Homo sapiens: one gene and its partners. The protein of the gene in region 3 interacts with the protein of the main gene of each other region in a biochemical or structural test. Each region holds a gene or a part of one and is shown on either strand. Other genes may lie near its edges. The genes, in order: EVI5, GDI2 and RAB11A.

Region 1 (3,654 bases), on a different chromosome or scaffold from region 3:
TGAGAGATAGTAAAAATTCCCCATGTCATCTGATTGATATCTTGAATTTTATATACAAACACAAAAGTAAAATACAGTCATGCACCGCATAAGAACATTTCAGTCAATGGATACCACATATAAGAGGGTAGTCCCTGCCTGAGCATAGTGGCTCACGCCTGTAATCCCAGCACTTTGGGAGACTGAGGCAGGTGGATCATTTGAGGTCAGGAGTTCAAGACCAACCTGGCCAACGTGGTGAAACTCCATCTCTAATAAAAATGTAGAAATTAGCCATGTGTAGTGGTGTGTGCCTATAATCCCAGCTACTGGGAGGCTCAGGCAGGAGAATAGTTTGAACCCAGGAGGCAGAAGTTGCAGTGAGCTGAGATAGCGCCACTGCACTCCAGCCTGCGAGACACAGCGAGACTGCATTTCAAAAAAAAAAAAAAAGAGGGTGGTCTCATGAGATTATAATATAGTACTTTTGGTGTATCTTTGCTGTTTAGATACACAAGTACCACTGTGTTACAACTGCCTACAGTATTCCATACAATAACATACTGTACAGGTTTGTAGCCTAGGAGCAAAAGGCTATACCATATAGCCTAGGTGTGTATAGTAGGCTCTATTATCTAGCTTTGTCTAAGTGTATTCTACGATGTTCATGCAACAGTGAAATTGTCTAACAACTCATTTCTCAGAACATATCCCCATTGTTAAGCAACACATGACTGACTGTTACTAACTTGTGGTAGAAAGAAAAGGCCAATGGGGATTTTGTGCAGTTGAGAAGCAGGCTTCTGTATTTTATAAAACTTGTTAAAAATTAATTTGAGGCCGGGCACGGTGGCTCACGCCTGTAATCCCAGCACTTTGGGAGGCCGAGGCAGGTGGATCACGAGGTCAGGAGATCAAGACCATCCTGGCTAACACGGTGAAACCCTGATTCTACTAAAAATATCAAAAATTAGCCAGGCGTGGTGGTGGGCGCCTGTAGTCCCAGCTACTTGGGAGGCTGAGGCAGGAGAATGGCGTGAACCCGGGAGGCGGAGGTTGCAGTGAGCCAAAATTGCGCCACTGCACTCCAGCCTGGGCGACAGAGCAAGACTCCATCTCAAAAAAAAAAAAAAAAAATTAATTTGAAGAGCAATATGTAGAGCTCGCAGGTTTTTATTTTTTGCCAAATATTAGAAGGAAAAAATCTATCTACTATCTAGAATCACAACTTCATAAGAAAAAGGGCATTTTAACACAGAAAAAGGATGGATATAATTTAAAGGTGAATAAATTGTATAAACATTGATAACATTTCTATTTCATCATGAACTTCATGGTAAAAATTCTAACTCAAAGAGCAACATTTGGGAAGCTACTGACTTAGTGTTTTAAAGAAAATAAAAATATAGAATGTCAAAGAATAACAAAGCTATTAGAGATATTTAAAATAGAGACTTTAATGGGTGGTTTTATCATTCACTTTATGTTAACTATACACTAAAATCTCCACAACTTTATTAATCTTTAGTAATAGCTCATAACTTTTTCTAGTCTAGAAGCTTTTTTCAAAATAAAAAATTCTGAGTACTACCTCTCCCCATGATTGGATTTAAGCATTACTAAATGAAATGATAACACCATCATGACTTTTTTTTTTTTTTTTGAGATGGAGTTTCACTCACTGTCACCCAAGCTGGAGTGCAGTGGTATGATCTCGACTCACTGCAGCCTCTGCCTCTCATGTTCAAGTGATTCTCCTGCCTCAGCCTACCAAGTAGCTGGGACTACAGGTGCACACCACCATAGCCAGCTAACTTTTTTTTTTTTTTTTTTGAGACAGAGTCTCGCTCGTCGCCCAGGCTGGAGTGCAGTGGCAAGATCTCAGCTCACTGCAAGCTCCGCCTCCCGGGTTCACGCCATTCTCCTGCCTCAGCCTCCCGAGTAGCTGGGACTACAGACGCCCGCCACCACGCCTGGCTAATTTTTTGTATTTTTAGTAGAGACGGGGTTTCACCATGTTAGCCAAGATGGTCTCAATCTCCTGACCTCGTGATCCACCCGCCTTGGCCTCCCAAAGTGCTGGGATTACAGGTGTGAACCACTGCACCCAGCCAATTTTTTGTATTTTTAGTAGAGATGGGGTTTCACTATGTTGGCCAGGCTGGTCTTAAACTCCTGACCTCAGGTGATCCAGCTGCCTCAGACTCCCAAAGTGCTGGGATTACAGGCGTGAGCCACCACCACGCCCGGCCCATTATGACTTTTTAATAAATTTTATTATATATTACAAATATGCAAGAACTATTATTCATGCAACATTTAATGTACACATGGATTTCCAGACCCCTTGCAGAGATCTACAGCCCAATCCATTTCTCCAGGCACTCATCTCCTCCTACCACAAGTTTCTCACATTTTAGGCTGGACAATTCCTTTAGAGAAGGTATCAAATAGCTCGTTAAACCGGATTATCTTCAAAATCACTTCCAATCTTGAGATTATAAGATCCTGGGACAACGAGTACTTCTAAAAAGAATTTTGAGACTCCTAAAGAAATGATATCTTGACCAATATTTAGGTCCTCTACCTCCTGACACTCTTTTCAGACAACTATGAAGAAATTTAAAAGGTATAACCCCATAAGGAGGAGACAACAATGGAGGACAGGTGGCAACAAGTTTCTGTATAATGGAAAGCAGACAGTGGACTTCCAAGGTGAGATGGCAGATTGAACACACACACATCTAATTTTGCTTCCTCCCAAAACGTTACTAAAACAAGGATAAAGAAAGTTGTGTTATTGTTGTTTGTTCTGTTTTTAGGACACAAGCCATTATGACAGGGAGAATGAGACAATAGCAACAAAATTTTGGAAGCTGGAAAGCAGCTGGATAACTGACCTAGTCAAAGATGCCAAAATCTTTTTTTTTTTTTTTTTGTGACGGAGTGTCACTCTGTCGCCAGGCTGGAGGTGCAGTGGCGCAATCTCAGCTCACTGCTACCTCCACCTCCTGGGTTCAAGCAATCCTCCTGCCTCAGCCTCCTGAGTAGCTGGGACTACAGGCGCACGCCACCACGCACAGCTAATTTTTGTATTTTTAGTAGAGACGGGGTTTCACCATGTTGGCCAGGATGGTCTCGATCTCTTGACCTCATGATCTGCCTGCCTCAGCCTCCCAAAGGGCTGGGATTACAGGGGTGAGCCACTGCACCCCGCCAAAGATGGCCAAATTCTAAGCCAGCAATGCTGACAACTAAGAACAAACCGGTTTATGCCATAGATTCCTCAAAAGGCTCAGGAACTGCCAGAACAAAGAGTGGAAGGGGGACTAAAAGAAAGGAGCAAGTGAATGCTGAACAGTTAGAATCCCAGATTTCTTCCAAGCTGCTGAGTGGCCCCACCCTCAATGTGGCAGGTGACAGATTTCTCTTCTCAAGAGGGTAAACCATACAAGGTGGAAGACATAGGCATCCTAACAGAGACAGATTGTGTGAGCCCAATATACTAAATGTTCTTTGGCTCCTTACCCAACCCTCTTTTCCTGAGTTCCCAGATACTGACAACCAGACCTCAACTCTCCAAGCAGAAAACTGGAAGATACTCTCTGGAAAATATGACTGGGACAAAAGGAAAGATAAATACAGTGGAGACAGCCTCAAACAATCCACCCAGAT
Region 2 (3,654 bases), on a different chromosome or scaffold from region 3:
TCCTAAGAAGACCACAATGCGAGATGTGTATAAGAAATTTGATTTGGGTCAAGACGTTATAGATTTTACTGGTCATGCTCTTGCACTTTACAGAACTGATGAGTAAGTATTTTGGTTTTTAGATTTGTATTTTTCTTGAAATTCTCACTAAATTTCCCAAGTCTTCCAAGTGGAAATTCTAACAAAACAAATACTTAGCCATATTGCACTATGAATGAAGAGGTTCTAGTTGAAATTAGTGTTGGGACCTTTTAAGTGATTTAAATATAAAGGTAGTGGGCCAGGTGTGGTGGCTCACGCCTGTGATCCCAGCACTTTGGGAGGCCAAGTTGGGTGGATCATTTGAGGTCAGGAGTTCAAGACCAGCCTGGCCAACATGGTGAAACCCCCTCTCTACTAAAAATGCAAAAATTAGTTGGGCGGTAGTGGTGCGTCCCTGTAATTCCAGCCACTTGGGAGGCTGAGGCAGAAGAATCACTTGAGCCTGGGAGGTGGAAGTTGTGGGGAGCCGAGATTGCACCACTGCACTCCAGTCTGGGCGACAGAGTGAGACCCTGTCTCAAAAAACAAAAAAACAAAAAAGAAGATAGCGGATTGAAATCGCTTCAAAAAAAATTATAAATTGAACACCATGAATGAAAACTAAAGCCCTTTCCTAATACTCATTTCCTTTCTTCCAGTTACTTAGATCAACCGTGTTATGAAACCATTAATAGAATTAAACTTTACAGTGAATCTTTGGCAAGATATGGCAAAAGCCCATACCTTTATCCACTCTATGGCCTTGGAGAACTGCCCCAAGGATTTGCAAGGTAAGAGCCTGTGTTTAAAACCTCAGTGATCCAAAACCTCATCTTCAACATAATGTGTATATGAGATATAGTTTAAATAATGAGATGAGATCAGTCTATGAGTAATAAGATGCTTTTTATTTTTATTGAAATAAAATTAACATATAATGATATGCATGGATCTTCAGTTAAAAAAAATCCAGTTTTATACAACTGTAGCTGATGTGCTCTTGTAAGTGCCAACTCCTGGCTGGAGGCCAGCCAATACAAAACCAGCGCACTTAACAAAAATACAACCAAGGACCTTCACAGAATCTACTTCACACCCCTGTTACCTCCACCAGAGTAAGTGCTGGTATCCACGCCTGAGAGACCTGGAGACAGATCACATCACAGGACTCTTTGCAGACACTCTCCAGTACCAGCTTAGAGCCTGATTATCTCCACTGGGCGGCTAGATCAAGAAGAGAAATAACAATCACTGCAGTTTGGCTCTCAGGAAGCCCCATCCCTAGGGGAAAGGGGAGAGCACCACATCAAGGGAGCATCCCTGTGGGACAAAAGAATCTGAACAGCAGCCCTTGAGTTCCAGATCTTCCCTCTGACATAGTCTATCCAGATGAGAAGGAACTGGAAAAACAACTGGGGTAATATGACAAAACAGGGTTCTTTGACACTCTGAAAAGGTCACACTAGCTTACCAGCAATGGATCTAAACCAAGACAAAAATCTCTGAATTGCCAGAAAAAGAATTCACAAGGTCATTATTACGCCAATCAAGGAGGCACGAGAGAAAGGTGAAGTCCAACTTAGCAAAACAAAAAAAGTGATACAGGATATGAATGGAAAAATTTCCAGGAAAATAGCATAAATAAATAATCACAACTTCTGAAAATCAAGGGACACACTTAGAGACATGCAAAATGCACTGGAAAGTCTCAGCAATAGAATTGAATAAGTAGAAGAAAGAAATTTCAGAGTTCGAAGACAAGGCTTTTGAATTAGCCCAATCTGACAAAGACAAAAAAGAATTTAAAAAAATGAACGCAGCCTCCAATAAGTTTGTTAAACAACCAAGCCTAAGAATAATTGGTGTTCCCAAGGAAGAAGAAGAATCTAAAAGTTTGGAAAACAAATTTGAGGGATTAATTGAGGAAAACTTCCCCGGCCTTGCTAGAGATCTAGACATCCAAATACAAGAAGCTTAAAGAACACCTGGGAAATTCATCACAAAAAGATCATCACCTAGGCACATAGTCATCAGGTTAACTAAAGTCAAGATGAAGGAAAGAATCTTAAGAGCTGTGAGTCAAAAGCCTCAGGTAACCTATAAAGGAAAACCTATCAGATTAACAGATTTCTCAGCAGAAACTCTAAAAGCTAGAAGGGATTGGGATCCTATCTTGAGCCTCCTTAAGTTATCAGCCAGTAATTTTGTATCCAGTGAAACAGAGCTTCATAAATGAAGGAAAGTAGTCTTTTTCACACAAACAAGTGCTGAGAGAATTTGCCACTACCAAGCCAGCACTACAAGAACTGCTAAAAGGAGCTCCAAATCTTGAAACAAATTCTCAAAATACCAAAATTGTATCTCCTTAAAGCATAAATCACACAGGACCTATAAAACAATAACACAATGAAGAAAAAAAACAAGGTGTTCAGGCAAACAAATAGCACGATGAATAGAATAGTACCTCAAATCTCAATACTAATGTTGAATGTAAATGGCCTACATGCTCCACTTTAAAGATACAGAATAGCAGAATGGATAAGAACTCATCAACCAAGTATCTGCTGTCTTCAAGAGATTCACCAGACACAAAAGGACTCAAATTTAAGGTAAAGGGGTGGAAAAATATATTTCATGTAAATGGACACCAGAAGCGAGCAGAAGTAGCTATTCTTATATTTTTTATTTTATAACTATATATATTTTAAAAAAAATCAGTTTGATAAATTTATAGACCTATCCCTGTCCTGGGTTTAACTAAAACCTGAGTGAAGGTATAGAACATTTTCCTCACCCCATAAAGTTCCCTTGTGTCACCTCATAATGAATACTGCCCCCCATCCCCAGCAACCACCTCTGTGATTTCTGTCACTATAGATTACTTTTGCTTGTTTTCAAAGTTCATGTAAAAGGAATAATACAATATGTTCTCATTTGTGTCTTTTTCATTTTTTGAGATTCATCCATATTGATGCATGTGTCAGTAATTCTTTTTTTTGGAGATGGAGTTCCACTCTTGTTGCCCAGGCTGGAGTGCTGTGGTGCAGTCTCAGCTCACTGCAACCTCCACCCCCTGGGTTCCAGTGATTCTCCTGCCTCAGCCTCCCAAGGAGCTGGGATTACAGGCATGCACCACCACATCCGGCTAATTTTTTATATTTAGTAGTGATGGGGTTTCACCATGTTGGTCAGTCTGGTCTTGAACTCCTGACCTCAAGTGATCCACCCACCTTGGCCTCCCAATGTGCTGGGATTACAGGTGTGAGCCATTGTGCCTGGCCAATTCTTTTTTTTTAATTGTTGAGTAGAATTCCTTTGTATGAATTATATGAGCATATAATTCTCCTTTTGGTGGACATCTAGTTAGTTTTCAGTTTTTGGCTATTATGAATGAAGGCACTGTGAAATTTTTATGTAAAACACTTTCTGTGGGGATATAGGTTTTCATTTCCTTTTGGGTAAATACTGGGAGTGAAATTGCTGACTAATGTGGCAGATAGAAGTCTGAATTCATAAGAAACTGTAAAACAGTGTTCTGGAGTGGTTGTGTCATTGTGTATACACTCAGCAGTGTATGAGAGTTCTCGTTGCTCCACATCCTTGTCAACATTTAGTATTGTAAGTTTTTAATTT
Region 3 (3,654 bases):
TCCCAGTCTCTTTAGTAAGGAATGGTCTTACTCCTTGGCCTTATTTTTGTATGTTTGATTTTCTAGTCCTGATGTCTAAATCAATTAGCTAGTTTAGATAAGAAGAAGTCTTAGTAGTCAAAAGTAGGAACGAATGTAATGTTTCCTGAAATGCTGATACCAATTTTTACAAAGGAAAAAATATCTAGCTCAGATTCTATAAACGTGTGAACTCATTTTGAACTTTAAATTCAGATAGAAAATGTTTTAAAACAACTTAACTGCCTGTTTCTCCATTGTTTTTGAAATTCTTAAGCGTAATACCACTTTGAGTGAAAAAGAATCTCCATGTATCTAGTTAGTAAATAAACTGCTGCCTATAGAAATCACAGGAAGCAAATTCATCTAATCAAGACCTATTTTCAAAAAAATCATGGAGTCATAAGTGAAAGTATATGCCCTCCTTGCTTTGTTGTATTTTATTTTATTTATTTTTTTAAGACAGAGTCTCAGTGTGTCGCCCAGGCTGGAGTGCAGTGACACAATCTCGGCCCACTGCAACCTCTGCTTCCCGGGTTCAAGCTATTCTCATGCCTCAGGCCCACAAGTAGTTGGGATTACATGCGCCCACCACCACACCTGGCTAATTTTTGTATTTTTATAGAGATGGGGTTTTCACCATGTTGGCCAGGCTAGTCTCGAACTCTTGGCGTCAAGCAATCCGCCCACCTTGGCCTTCCAAAATGCTGGGATTACAGGTGTGAGCCACCACACCCGGCACTTGCTTTGGTTTTGACTCACAGTATGTCAGAATTATTAGTTTCCTAATACCCCCTGTTTATCTGTAGTGGCTTGGGTTTTTTTGGCAGAGGGGTCTCTAACTTTGAACCAATCTGATAAATGCAACTATTAAAGGTCATTTTAGTTTCTGTGATCTGTATGGTGATGTTTATAAACCCTATGCCTCATATGTTAAATGTTTTTCATTTTGCCTAGGTCTCAGTCCTGAGGTCACACCCAGTCTTTGATGAAACGAAGTATATTCATTTTGTCCTTCCCTACCCACTAACAGCCTTTGTTGTTTTCATTTCTGATACATTACATTTTAATATCATAAATTATTCATTTAGTTTAGGATTTATCTTTGAAGTTGTTATCTTCTAAAGTAGTAAGATTGGCATAGCATTGACGGTAATTAATGCCTGTCATCAATGCCAAGGGCATCTGTGATTAAAACTGCATGTTTAAGACAGGGTACCGTATCTGTGCTAAGCAGATGATATGTGGAAGTCATGCAGGTAGAAACAGGTTGAAAAGAATAAATCGGTTTTATTGATTGGTAACTGGTCAAGAACATGCTGTTCAACCCCCTACCCCCATTCCTTTTTAAAAGTCATATACCTTATTTTTCTTGCTTTATTTACTCTGAAGCCAAACTTCATTCTGTTGAAAGCATAGTGGTGTTCTGAATATGTTTGCCTCATTCATCTGACATTGAATTCTTTGTCTTTCCAGTTGTCCTTATTGGAGATTCTGGTGTTGGAAAGAGTAATCTCCTGTCTCGATTTACTCGAAATGAGTTTAATCTGGAAAGCAAGAGCACCATTGGAGTAGAGTTTGCAACAAGAAGCATCCAGGTTGATGGAAAAACAATAAAGGCACAGATATGGGACACAGCAGGGCAAGAGCGATATCGAGCTATAACATCAGCGTAAGTCTCATGGTTTTTAAGTTCTGTGAAATGGGTTGCCATCGAGTGAATTAGCTGACTTTTGGTATTGGAAAAAGAACTGTTGTTTTTTTCTTTTAAGAATTCTAGTATTAGGAATCCTTAGAAATTTATTTATAAGTATGTTTTTAAAACTCATGATCCATATTTTGAGTTCTTCCTGGTGTTTGCTTCCATCTTGTGGTTTTCTGATACTAAATATGTTTCTGTTTTCAGATATTATCGTGGAGCTGTAGGTGCCTTATTGGTTTATGACATTGCTAAACATCTCACATATGAAAATGTAGAGCGATGGCTGAAAGAACTGAGAGATCATGCTGATAGTAACATTGTTATCATGCTTGTGGGCAATAAGAGTGATCTACGTCATCTCAGGGCAGTTCCTACAGATGAAGCAAGAGCTTTTGCAGGTTAGTGATAGGAATTCCATGATATTTCTTACCATTGTGTCTTGTGGTTTTGATACCTTCCAATGAGAGTAATAGGTTATAATAGTTTCAGAGAGGTAAACATGAATGCTTAGCAAGAATTGTTTTGAAAGTTTGTGATGACTGTATAGCTTTTTTGCTTTGAGTCATTAAAACACTAATATTTTGCTGCCAAAAAATGAATATAAACATTGTATATTCTGTCTCTTTTTCTGTTATGTTTCTGTGTTTACAAAGGCTGCTGTACGTGAGCTCTATGTGAGTGAAAGGCAGAGGCTCAGGGAGTGTCAGGGACCAACAGGGATGCAGCTGCTTAGGAGCTGTAACTTTTTGGCTTCATAAAGAATTCACGTGTCTCTTGCCCCTGTTCTGGTAGGGACAGCATGCCAGAAGACAACATTGTGCATTGTGGCTAGTGAAAGTCTTGCGGCCGGGCGTGGTGGCTCATGCCTGTAATCCCAGCACTTTGGGAGGCTGAGGTGAGTGGATCATGAGGTCAGGAGATTGAGACCATCTTGGCTAACATGGTGAAACCCCGTCTCTACTAAAAATACAAAAAACCGGGCGCGGTGGCGGGCGCCTGTAGTCCCAGCTACTCGGGAGGCTGAGGCAGGAGAATGGCGTGAACCCGGGAGCAGAGCTTGCAGTGAGCCGAGATAGCGCCACTGCAGTCCGGCCTGGGCGAAAGAGCGAGACTCCGTCCCAAAAAAACAAAACAAAACAAACAAAAAAAGAGAGAAAGTCTTGCCTTTGCACTAATGCTTATGCTATGAATAACTTTCTGTAACAGTTTTTTAAATTTCCCATGCAAGAATAGCTTTATTGTAAATAATATGGCTACAACATACGGAATACTATAGCCAATGTAGTTGATGGAGAGGATAGCAAGAGATGGAAATAACTGGGCACTTGATACATTTTTACCACATTTTAAGTGGTGTCATTCGTCACTAGTGAGTAGTACTTAGATATAACAAGTATTTATTTTAATTAAGGAGCCAATTGACAATTTCTCACTTTTTTTTTTTTTTTTTTTGGGAGCCAGGATCTCACTCTGTGACCCATTCTGGAGTGGAGTGGCACAGTCAAGGCTCACTGCAGCCTCGACCTCCTGGGCTCTAGTGATCTTCCACCTCAGCCTCCTAAGTAGCTGAGACTGCTGGTGTGTGTCACCACGCTCAGCTAATTTTTAGTATTCTTTATATAGAGAGAGCAAAACCTCTCTCCAGTGTTTTGCCATGTTGCCCAGGCTGGTCTTGAACTCCTGGGCTCAAGCAATCCGCCTGCCTTGGCCTGCCAAAGTCCTGGGATTACAGGAGTGAGCCACCATGCCCAGCTCTCTTGCTATTATTTTTAATCTATTAAAGTGTAAATATTAAAGTGTAAGTAGGGTCGGGCATGGTGGCTCATGCCTGTAATCTCAGCATTTTGGGAGATGGAGGCAGGAGAAACTCTTGAGGCCAGGAGTTCAAGACCAGGCTGGGCAACCTAGTGAGACCTGCATCTCTACTTATATAA

Evidence for each region.
Region 1: the proteins of RAB11A (region 3) and EVI5 form a complex in vitro, tested with the Homo sapiens proteins (one study listed by IntAct).
Region 2: the proteins of RAB11A (region 3) and GDI2 form a complex in vitro, tested with the Homo sapiens proteins (one study listed by BioGRID).

Annotation. Positions count from the first base shown.
Region 1 is NC_000001.11:92,775,010-92,778,663, forward strand, and holds part of EVI5 (ecotropic viral integration site 5 protein homolog), read right to left. Parts: intron 1-3,654. UniProt on the Homo sapiens protein: Functions as a regulator of cell cycle progression by stabilizing the FBXO5 protein and promoting cyclin-A accumulation during interphase. May play a role in cytokinesis.
Region 2 is NC_000010.11:5,782,300-5,785,953, reverse strand, and holds part of GDI2 (rab GDP dissociation inhibitor beta), read left to right. Parts: coding exon 1-102; intron 103-680; coding exon 681-812; intron 813-3,654. UniProt on the Homo sapiens protein: GDP-dissociation inhibitor preventing the GDP to GTP exchange of most Rab proteins. By keeping these small GTPases in their inactive GDP-bound form regulates intracellular membrane trafficking.
Region 3 is NC_000015.10:65,875,838-65,879,491, forward strand, and holds part of RAB11A (ras-related protein Rab-11A), read left to right. Parts: intron 1-1,494; coding exon 1,495-1,690; intron 1,691-1,924; coding exon 1,925-2,118; intron 2,119-3,654. UniProt on the Homo sapiens protein: The small GTPases Rab are key regulators of intracellular membrane trafficking, from the formation of transport vesicles to their fusion with membranes.